2 separate regions of the Homo sapiens genome follow, and region 1 is linked to region 2. The links come from fine-mapping of genetic effects on gene expression. A gene starts in region 2. The other region holds a variant in brackets. All regions are shown on one strand. Distances are between the middles of the regions.

The links. PIP is the estimated chance that this variant, and not a neighbour inherited with it, causes the effect.
Region 1: its variant is the best candidate, but not a certain one, in a credible set for the expression of PRRG4 in whole blood (INTERVAL, PIP 0.50).

Annotation. Positions count from the first base shown.
Region 1 is chr11:32,871,422-32,875,818 of GRCh38, forward strand. No RefSeq gene overlaps it. Among named protein-coding and RNA genes, the nearest start is that of QSER1, 19 kb to the right of the region's middle. The variant T/C (reference allele first, on the strand shown) is at 2,697.
Region 2 is chr11:32,827,220-32,831,581 of GRCh38, forward strand. PRRG4 (proline rich and Gla domain 4) reads left to right here and starts at 2,708. Exons shown (of 6, transcript NM_024081.6): 1 at 2,708-2,954; 2 at 3,289-3,413. The coding sequence starts at 3,311. It also overlaps a transcript of CCDC73 not described here. RefSeq lists a silencer at 2,485-2,864 and enhancers at 3,285-3,334, 3,345-3,404.

The DNA of each region.
Region 1 (4,397 bases), 44 kb after region 2:
AGTCACTTTATAAATGCAGCTTTTACATGTAAGTCTAATTTTTATGTTTATCAGGTAAGAGCTGAAGTTCATTTTCTTCCATGCAACTATGCAGTTGTTTTAGCAACACATCTTTAAAAGGCTGTCCTTTCTCCGCTGAATTATCTTGGTACCTTTGCTGAAAATCAATTGATCACACATATGGGGTTCTGTTTTACTGATCATAGTTTATCCTTATATCAATATCATATTATCTTGATGACTGTAGCCTTGTCATAAGTCTTCAAAAGAAGTAGTCTAAGTTCTCAAACTTTGTTCTTTCCCAAAAAATTTTTGGCTATTTAATACATTTAACATTGCATACATTTTGGAATTAGCTAGTCAATTTCTAAATCAAAAGACTGCTGAAAATTTGACTAGAATTGCATTTAATTTATAGAAAAACTTACATGTATTAAACAATCCATAGTTTTTTTGTTTGTTTGTTTGTTTTTTTAGACAAAGTCTTGCTCTGTTGCCCAGGCTGGAGTGCAGCGGTGCGATCTCAGCTCACTACAACATCTGCCTCCCAGGTTCAAGTGATTCTCCTGCCTCAGCCTCCTGAGCAGCTGGAATTACAAGTGCATGCCACCATGCCCAGATAATTTTTGTACTTTTTGTAGAGACAGGGTTTCACCATGTTGGCCAGGCTGGTCTCGAACTCCTGACCTCAAATGATCTGCCTGCCTCAGCCTCCCAAAATCCTGGGATTACAGGTGTGATCCACTGTGCCCAGCCCATAGTATGTTTTCTCATGTATTAAGATCTTTTAAATTTATCTCAGCAATGTTTATAGGTTTCGGTATATAGGAGTTACGTCTATTTTGTTAAATTCATCCTTAAGTACTTAATGTCTTTTTACACTGTTCTAGATGACATCTTTAAAATTTAATTTTCCAACTTTCTTTCCAAGAGAATTCCAATTATGTTTTCAAGAGAATTGAAAACGTATGTTCACATAAAAAATTGTTTATAGCAGCATTATGCGTAATAACCAAAAAGTGGAAACTCCCAAATGTTCATCAACCTATGAGTGAATAAACAAAAAGTAGTATATACATACAAGGGGATATTATTCAGTTAGAAAAAGGAATGAAGTACTGACACATGCTACAACATTGGTAAACCTTGAAAGCATTTCAGTAAGTGAAAGAAGCCAGACACAAAAGCCCACATATATCGGGTGATTCCATTTATATGAAATGTCGGAATAAGCAAATCCATAAAAATGGAAAGTAGATTAGCCATTGACAGGAACTGTGCGGAATGGGAAATGATGAGCAAGTGCCAATAGATAAGAGGTTTTTTTTCAGGGTGATGTAAATGCTCTAGAATTAGATACTGGTGATGTTTACACAATTTTAAGTACATATTAAAAACCACTGGACGGGCACAATGGTTCATGCCTGTAATCCCAGCACTTTGGGAGGCTGAGATGGGCAGATCACGAGGTCAGAAGTTCAAGACCAGCCTGGCCAATGTGGTGAAACCCCGTCTCTACTAAAAGTACAAAAAAACTAGCCCGGCGTGATGGGGCATGCCTGTAGTCCCAGCTACTCGGGAGGCTGAGGCAGGAGAATCGCTTGAACCCAGGAGGCGGAGGTTGCAGTGAGCCGTGATTGTGCCACTGCGCTCCATCCTGGGCAACAGAGGGAGACTCCATCTCAAAAACAAAAAGCAACAAATACTGTATTGTATACTTTTAAATGGTGAGTTTTATGGTACACGAATTATACCTTGATTTTAAAAAAATTTATTTTCCAATTGCTTATTGTTAGTATATAAAAATATAATTAATATTTGGTTATTGAACTTGTATCCTACGATCTTGCTAAATTCAACTTTTAGTGCTATGGTTTGCATGTGTTCCCCCAAAAGCATGTATTGAAAACTTAATCCCCAATGCAGGAGTGTTGGCAAGTAAGAACTAATGACAGGCAATTAGGCCTTGAGGGCTCCACCCTCATGAATAAATTAGTGATGTTATTGTGGAAGTGAGTTCATTATTGTAGAAGTGGGTTCATTGTAAAATTCTCTTTCTTGCCCTCTTACCTTCTGCCATGAGATCACACAGCAAGCAGTCCCTTGCCAGCCTCTCAGTCTTGGACTTCCCAGCCACCAGAACCATGAGCCAAATAAATCTCTGTTCTTGGGCATCCTGTTACAGTAGCACAAAAAAGCAAAAATAGAAAATTGGTACCGGAGAAGTGGGGTATTGTTATAACAAATACCTGAAAATGTGGAAGTGACTTTGGAAGTGGGTAATGGGTAGAAGCTGAAGAATTTGGAGGAGAAGCCTAGAAAAAAAAAAAAACCTGTACAGAGCATTAAGGCTCAGAAGAAGAGATAGCTGTTAGGAAAGTCTGAAATTTCTTAGAGACTGCTTAAATGGTCGTGACCAGAATGTTGGTGGAAATGTGGACAGTGAAGACTATTCTGATGAGTCTCAGATGAAAATGAGGAGCAAGGTATTGGAAACTGGAAAATGGGTCATCCTTGTTATAAAGTGGCACACAAGTTAGCTGAATTGTGTCCATGCTCAAGGGCTTTATGGAAGACAGAACTTAAGAACCATGAACTAGGACATCTGGCTGAAGTAAAATCTAAGAAGCAAAGCATTATGAAGCTGCGTGGCTTCTCTTAACTATATGTGGTAAATTTAGAGTGGACACGCATGA[T/C]TTAAAGATGGCATTTATCATTTAAAAGGGAAGCAGAATAGAAAGACTTGGAAAATGTCCAGCCTGGCCATGTAAAGAGTGAAAAGTCATGTTTAGAAGAGCAAACCAAGGGTGTGGCAAAGCAACTGTTTACTAAAGGGATTAGTAGGGATGGAGGGGAGTCAGATGCTATTTATCCCACAAAGACAATGGGAGAATGGGGCTGCCCCTCCCATCACAGGCAAGAGCAGGGTATTGAGGGTGAGCTTTCCAGAGAAGCACCAGCAGATAATCAGCATTTACTACCTGCATTCCCTCAAGTCTCTGCTCCCTGCATTCCAGCACAGCACTGCTTGGCCACCCCAGCCCTGGCTCAAGTGTGGCCAGGTGCAGCATGTGATGCTGCTCCAGAGGGCACAAGCTCTAAATCTTGGCAGTGTTCACATGTGTGCCAACTCTGCAGATGCCAAGAGGGTGCAAGCTATGGGCCATGGCAGCCCTCACCTAGATTTCAAGGAATATCTCGGACAGCCTGGGGTCCCAGGCAGAAATGTGGTGCAGGGTCAGAGCCACAGCAGAGAGTATCCTGGAGGCATCACAGAGTCCCCATTAGGACAGTGCATAGTGGAACATGTTTGGTTTCACAGGCTCAAGGCTGGAAGAAGTATGCCTCAGAATGAATTGTGCCATAAGTCTCTCCCATATCTAATATAGATGAGACTCTGGACTTTGGACTTTTGAACTGGTGCAGGAATGAGTTAAGACTTGGTGTTGGCCGGGCGCAGTGGCTCACGCCTGTAATCCCAGCACTTTGGGAGGCTGAGGCAGGTGGATCACGAGGTCAGGAGATCGAGACCATCCTGGCTAACACGGTGAAACCCTGTCTCTACTAAAAAATACAAAAAATTAGCCAGGCGTGGTGGTGGGCACCTGTAATCCCAGCTACTCAGGAGGCTGAGGCAGGAGAATGGCGTGAACCCGGGAGTCGAAGCTTGCAGTGAGCCGAGATTGTGCCACTGCACTCCAGCCTGGGCGACAGAGCCAGACTCCGTCTCAAAAAAAAAAAAAAAAAAAAAGACTTGGTGTTATTAGGATAAAATTAATATATTTTGCTTGTGAGAAGGATGTGAATTTGGGGGGCCAAGGATAGAATACTATGTTTTTAACGTATTCTCCAAAAAGCATATGTTGGAAACTTAATCCTCAATGTAACGTTATTGAGAAGTGGAGCCTAATGAGAGGTGATTAAGCCATGAGGCTCTAACCCTATGAATGGATTAAGGCCATCATCGCAGAAGCAAGTTCATTATTTCAGAATGGGTTTGTTATAAAATGGCAGGTTCAAGTTTGAACCCCTTCTCTCTCTCTCTCTCCTTTCTCTCTCTCTCTTGTCTTTTTGCCTTCTGCCCTGAGATGATGCAGCAAGAAGGCCTTCACAAGATGCCAGCCCCTCAATCTTGGACTTCCCAGTCTCCAGAACCATGACTCAATAAATTTCTGTTTATTTTAAATTACTCAGCCTTAGATATTTTGTTATAGCAGCACAAAATGAACTAAGACAATCAGTTATACTTTTCAAATTTAGATTCCTTCAGATTTTTATGACATTCACAAATAAAAAGTGTTTTACTTTTTAATTTTTGTCCTATATGTACTTTATTTATTTTTCTCACCTTATTGCTCTGGCTAGACCTCCAGTACAATGTTGAATAGAATGGTAAG
Region 2 (4,362 bases):
AAATAATAGAAGAAATCAGCTCTCTTGGGCATTGTTGTTACTGGCTTTTCTCATTTCTCTCTTTGCCATCTAACCTCAAAATATCTTGCAGCTCCGTAGTGACTGAAGTTTGTGTGCATGCTGCCAAATGCTGTAACATTCTCTAGGACTCAATGTTACAGGGAAACACACAGGGATGTAATTCACTACTGAGAAACAGACTTCATTTCTCTGTCTGCCTCCCTCTCTGTCTATAAACTCTGATATTTGATGTCAGCACAAGGCCTCATTTGTTTTGGTCCAAATATCCAGATATGTGGGCAGACTCATTTTACCAAGGAATGTCATCAAAGTTCACAACTGCTGATTCCATAGCATGAGGCATTTGACCATTGGCCTCTCCCCAAAGTAGTGGGAAATGAAGCACTTTTCCTACCTGAAGATAAATTGCTTCCACTCCATGAAAATGTATTCAGCACGAACAATGTAGAAAGCACTCCCCTGGGTACTGTCGAGAATGCAAAAATGAATAAGTCAGTTCTTGCACTTGATAAGAACTTTACAGGCCCACATTCTCAGATATAGGTCTCAGTCAGATTAAGTTCTCCTCCACAACAGAAGCTGTGGTGTCCATCTCCCCACCAGGAGGTCTCAGTGCTGTAGGTTGACTCAATGAATAAACAGGAAAATGGGTGTTCTAGTGAAAATGTTTCCTATTCTTGTGTTCAACCACAATAAACCATGTCTGGCCTCTTCATAGTCTGATCCCAATTGCTTGAATAAGAGGGAAAGAAGAATCCATCATAGAAATAGTTTAGACCACGAGGTAGACAAATGGAAAGTGAAGAGGAAGGGATTGGAAGAAGGGAAAGGAAAAGCACTGCCTAGAAGGAATCAGTGAAAACAAAATTTCTGCAGAAAACTTAGGAATAATTCAGTTGATTATCAATAATAATAATAAAATAGACAATATCCTTTGGGAGGAGAAAAACAGAATTTGGTAAAAATTGAATTAGTCAAAAATTTGAGGCCGGGCACAGTGGCTCATGCCTGTAATCCCAGCACTTTGGGAGGCCGAGGTAGGTGGATCACCTGAGGTCAGGAGTTTGAGAACAACCTGGCCAACATGGTGAAAACCCCTCTCTCCTAAATGTACAAAAAATTAGCCGGGCGTGGTGGTGGATGCCTGTAATCCCAGCTACTCGGAAGGCTGAGGCAGGAGAATCGCTTGAACCCAGGAGGCGAAGGTTACAGTAAGCCAAGATTGTGCCACTGTACTCCAGCCTGGGTGACAGAGCAAGACTCTGTCTCAAGAAAAAAAAAAAAAAAATGAAGGGGGAAAAAATGTTTCCCTTGGTCCCCAGCAAGTGCCAGACCACTTCGACCAAAGCATAAATAGTGTTTCAAAGAACTGTTAAGCACGTTCTTTGGATAAAGAAGGATGTGACCATCACCTGGCATAGGTACTCTGTCCACCTGCTGCCTTCATTACTTGATGCAGCAGTTTTTGAAGTCTTTAATCAAGACCTTTTTACGCTCTTTTACATTATCAAGGACCCCAAAGAGCTTTCACTTATGTGAATTTTATCTAATGATATTTATTATCTAACATTAAAACTGAGAAATTTTCAAAATATTATTTGAAATCAAGACAACAAAGCTTACTTTTTGTTATGTTTATGCATAGACTCAAGGAAAAGATCAAGATTTCAAGATAATTACTTCAGAAAAATGAGGTTATAGCTATCCTAGTAGATATGAACAAATAGAACTAATCAAAGTACAAAAGCAGTAGCCAAGAGAGTTGGTGGACACCTGTAGTCCCAGCTACTCTGGAGGATGAGACAGGAGGATCTCTTGAGCCCAGGAGTTCCTGGGCAACAAAGTGAGACCCCCTACTCTGAAAAAGAAAAAAGGAAAGAAAAAAAATTAAGTTCACAAGTACTGAGAACAAATTTTATTAATCTCTATAAATCTACATAAATCTCTATAAAATGTACATACTGATAATGTAAACATACTACTATGGAAAATACCAGAAAATACAAGCACGCTCACTCAGGTATTCTATTAGGAGACAGAATGATGACGTTATTACACTTCAAATAGCCCCTGGAAATTTCCACTGTACACTCTTGAGAGAATGAAAGTGAAAATGGCAAATCATTTATTGTTACTATAATGGAAATAGTTTTGCCCTCAGAGACCCCTGGAAAAGATCTTGGAGACATCCCAGACCTGGCGGACCACCATTGGAGAACCAATGTAATCAATTACTTGTAAGGTCATTTCCATTTCTTATCACGAATAAAGGGTATTTTGTCTGATGAATATCTTGTCCTCGTCCCCGGACCACCCTTTTGAGAACAGTTGACCTAAGGTAACCACAGGACTCCTGGCCCAGTGGGACCCAAAGCGAAAAGCCCTGGACGCGCCGAGGGCGCTCTGCTTAAGACTGAGAACCGAAATGCTTCCTGAATTAGGATCATTGAGAACGCCGAGTGCAGACACAAATCGAAAAGCAGCCACCCGCGCCGCCAAGGCGGGGCCAGAACTGGCGGCAGGCGGCTGGCCCGCCCGGGGATGGGGCAGAAGCTGGGGCGGCTGAGAGCGCAGCGCGGGCTCCCGGGAGACGCCGGCCCACTGCCCGCCCGCTCGCCGCAGGTAGGCCCGGCCCCCGGGAGGTGGGGCGCGGCCAGGTGTCCCCAGGTAGCCGCCTCCTCCCGTCCTCCGTCGGCCGCCTCCCCGGACCGAGGCAGGACCTCACCCCGCGCGTGTTCCCCGGGCGCCCCTCTGCGAACCCCAGGCCCTTCCCAGGTTTGCGCGCGGGGGCCATCCAGACCCTGCGGAGAGCGAGGCCCGGAGCGTCGCCGAGGTTTGAGGGCGCCGGAGACCGAGGGCCTGGCGGCCGAAGGAACCGCCCCAAGAAGAGCCTCTGGCCCGGGGGCTGCTGGAACATGTGCGGGGGGACACAGGTACGAGGCCTGGCGGCAGGACCTCGGCGGGGAGGGGGTTACCTGGAAGGGGCCACCTCGGCGGACTGGGTTGGATTCGAACACATAGCGAGGGTTGCCCGCGGCGACAGGTGCCCGATCAGCCCTCGGCAGGGTCACTGGGCACGGCGTTTGTCCCAGGCGCTCTCAGGGGCTGCTTCCTGGGCGCGCGTCGGGTTCCGGCGACCGAAACCGCGCGCCGGGCGCTCTTGCGCCTAGGCTTTGAGTACAACAGGTTGGTGATTCAGTTCGACAGAAACTCAAAGTGCTGAGCTAGGGGCCTTTTTTTTTTAATATTTTTTTTTGTTTGTTTTAGTTTGTTTGACAGTTGCCAGACTATGTTTACGCTTCTGGTTCTACTCAGCCAACTGCCCACAGTTACCCTGGGGTTTCCTCATTGCGCAAGAGGTCCAAAGGCTTCTAAGCATGCGGGAGAAGAAGGTAAGCACTAAAACGTCCCTGGAACCCAGAGCCGCATAGCACAGATCTCAGTGAGAAAGTGCAGTATTTGAAATTACATACCCCCAGCAATCATAGAAACACTAAAATATCCTTTAGTTTAATTTGTGGCATATTTGGCAAGGTTGTGTTTTTTTATGTTCTTTAACTGCAATTTATAGAATTTGATGTCTGTGAGTCTCCTTTAATAAGTATATACGTAAGACCTAGTTTGTGGTTAATTGAATGGAAAACCTATTTCAGCTTCTGAAAATCAGTGAGTGACATTTCTCTAGATGAAGCTGTGTGGCGATTATAATAAGCATAATTACTTGTTCTTCCTGGAGAGGCGAACGGGGAGTCCAGGATCTAGTCTGGACTTGCGAGACCCTGGGCGAGATAACTTAATCCCGTTTGGCTTGAATGTCTTCATCTGTAAAAGTGATGCGGGTGGGGCGTAAAATGATCTCTGAGGTCCTTTTTGACTTCAGATGGTCTAGTTGTCTAGATAAAAGCAGCTAGTTGAGAAAAGATTAGGTTTGGGGCTTGCTAACCTGGAAGTCCACAGTTTTTAGGTTTCAGATCATTAACAGTTTGTTTCCTGCCTATATCTTAAAAGCCTAACCTAGTAAAACCAGAAGAAAAAAAAAGCCTCTGTCTCTCAGCATCCTTCTCCCTGACTATTCATGGTGCTTCCCCACTCAGTGTCAGTACTCTGGATCCACGTCCCCACACATTCCTGTCTCTTATCCCTTCTCATCAGATCCGATTCTCAGCTCATTTTCATTTGGGAAGGATCTGTTACACTAGTACTCCTAACTGACTTTATTAATGATTAATACAGCTGTGTTTGTGTGTGTTGAGCTAGAACAATCCATTAACCCAAAGGCGTGAAACTCTGATGACAGAATTCTAGCAACTGGATAGGCTAGCTAGAGAGAGAGGGAGAGAT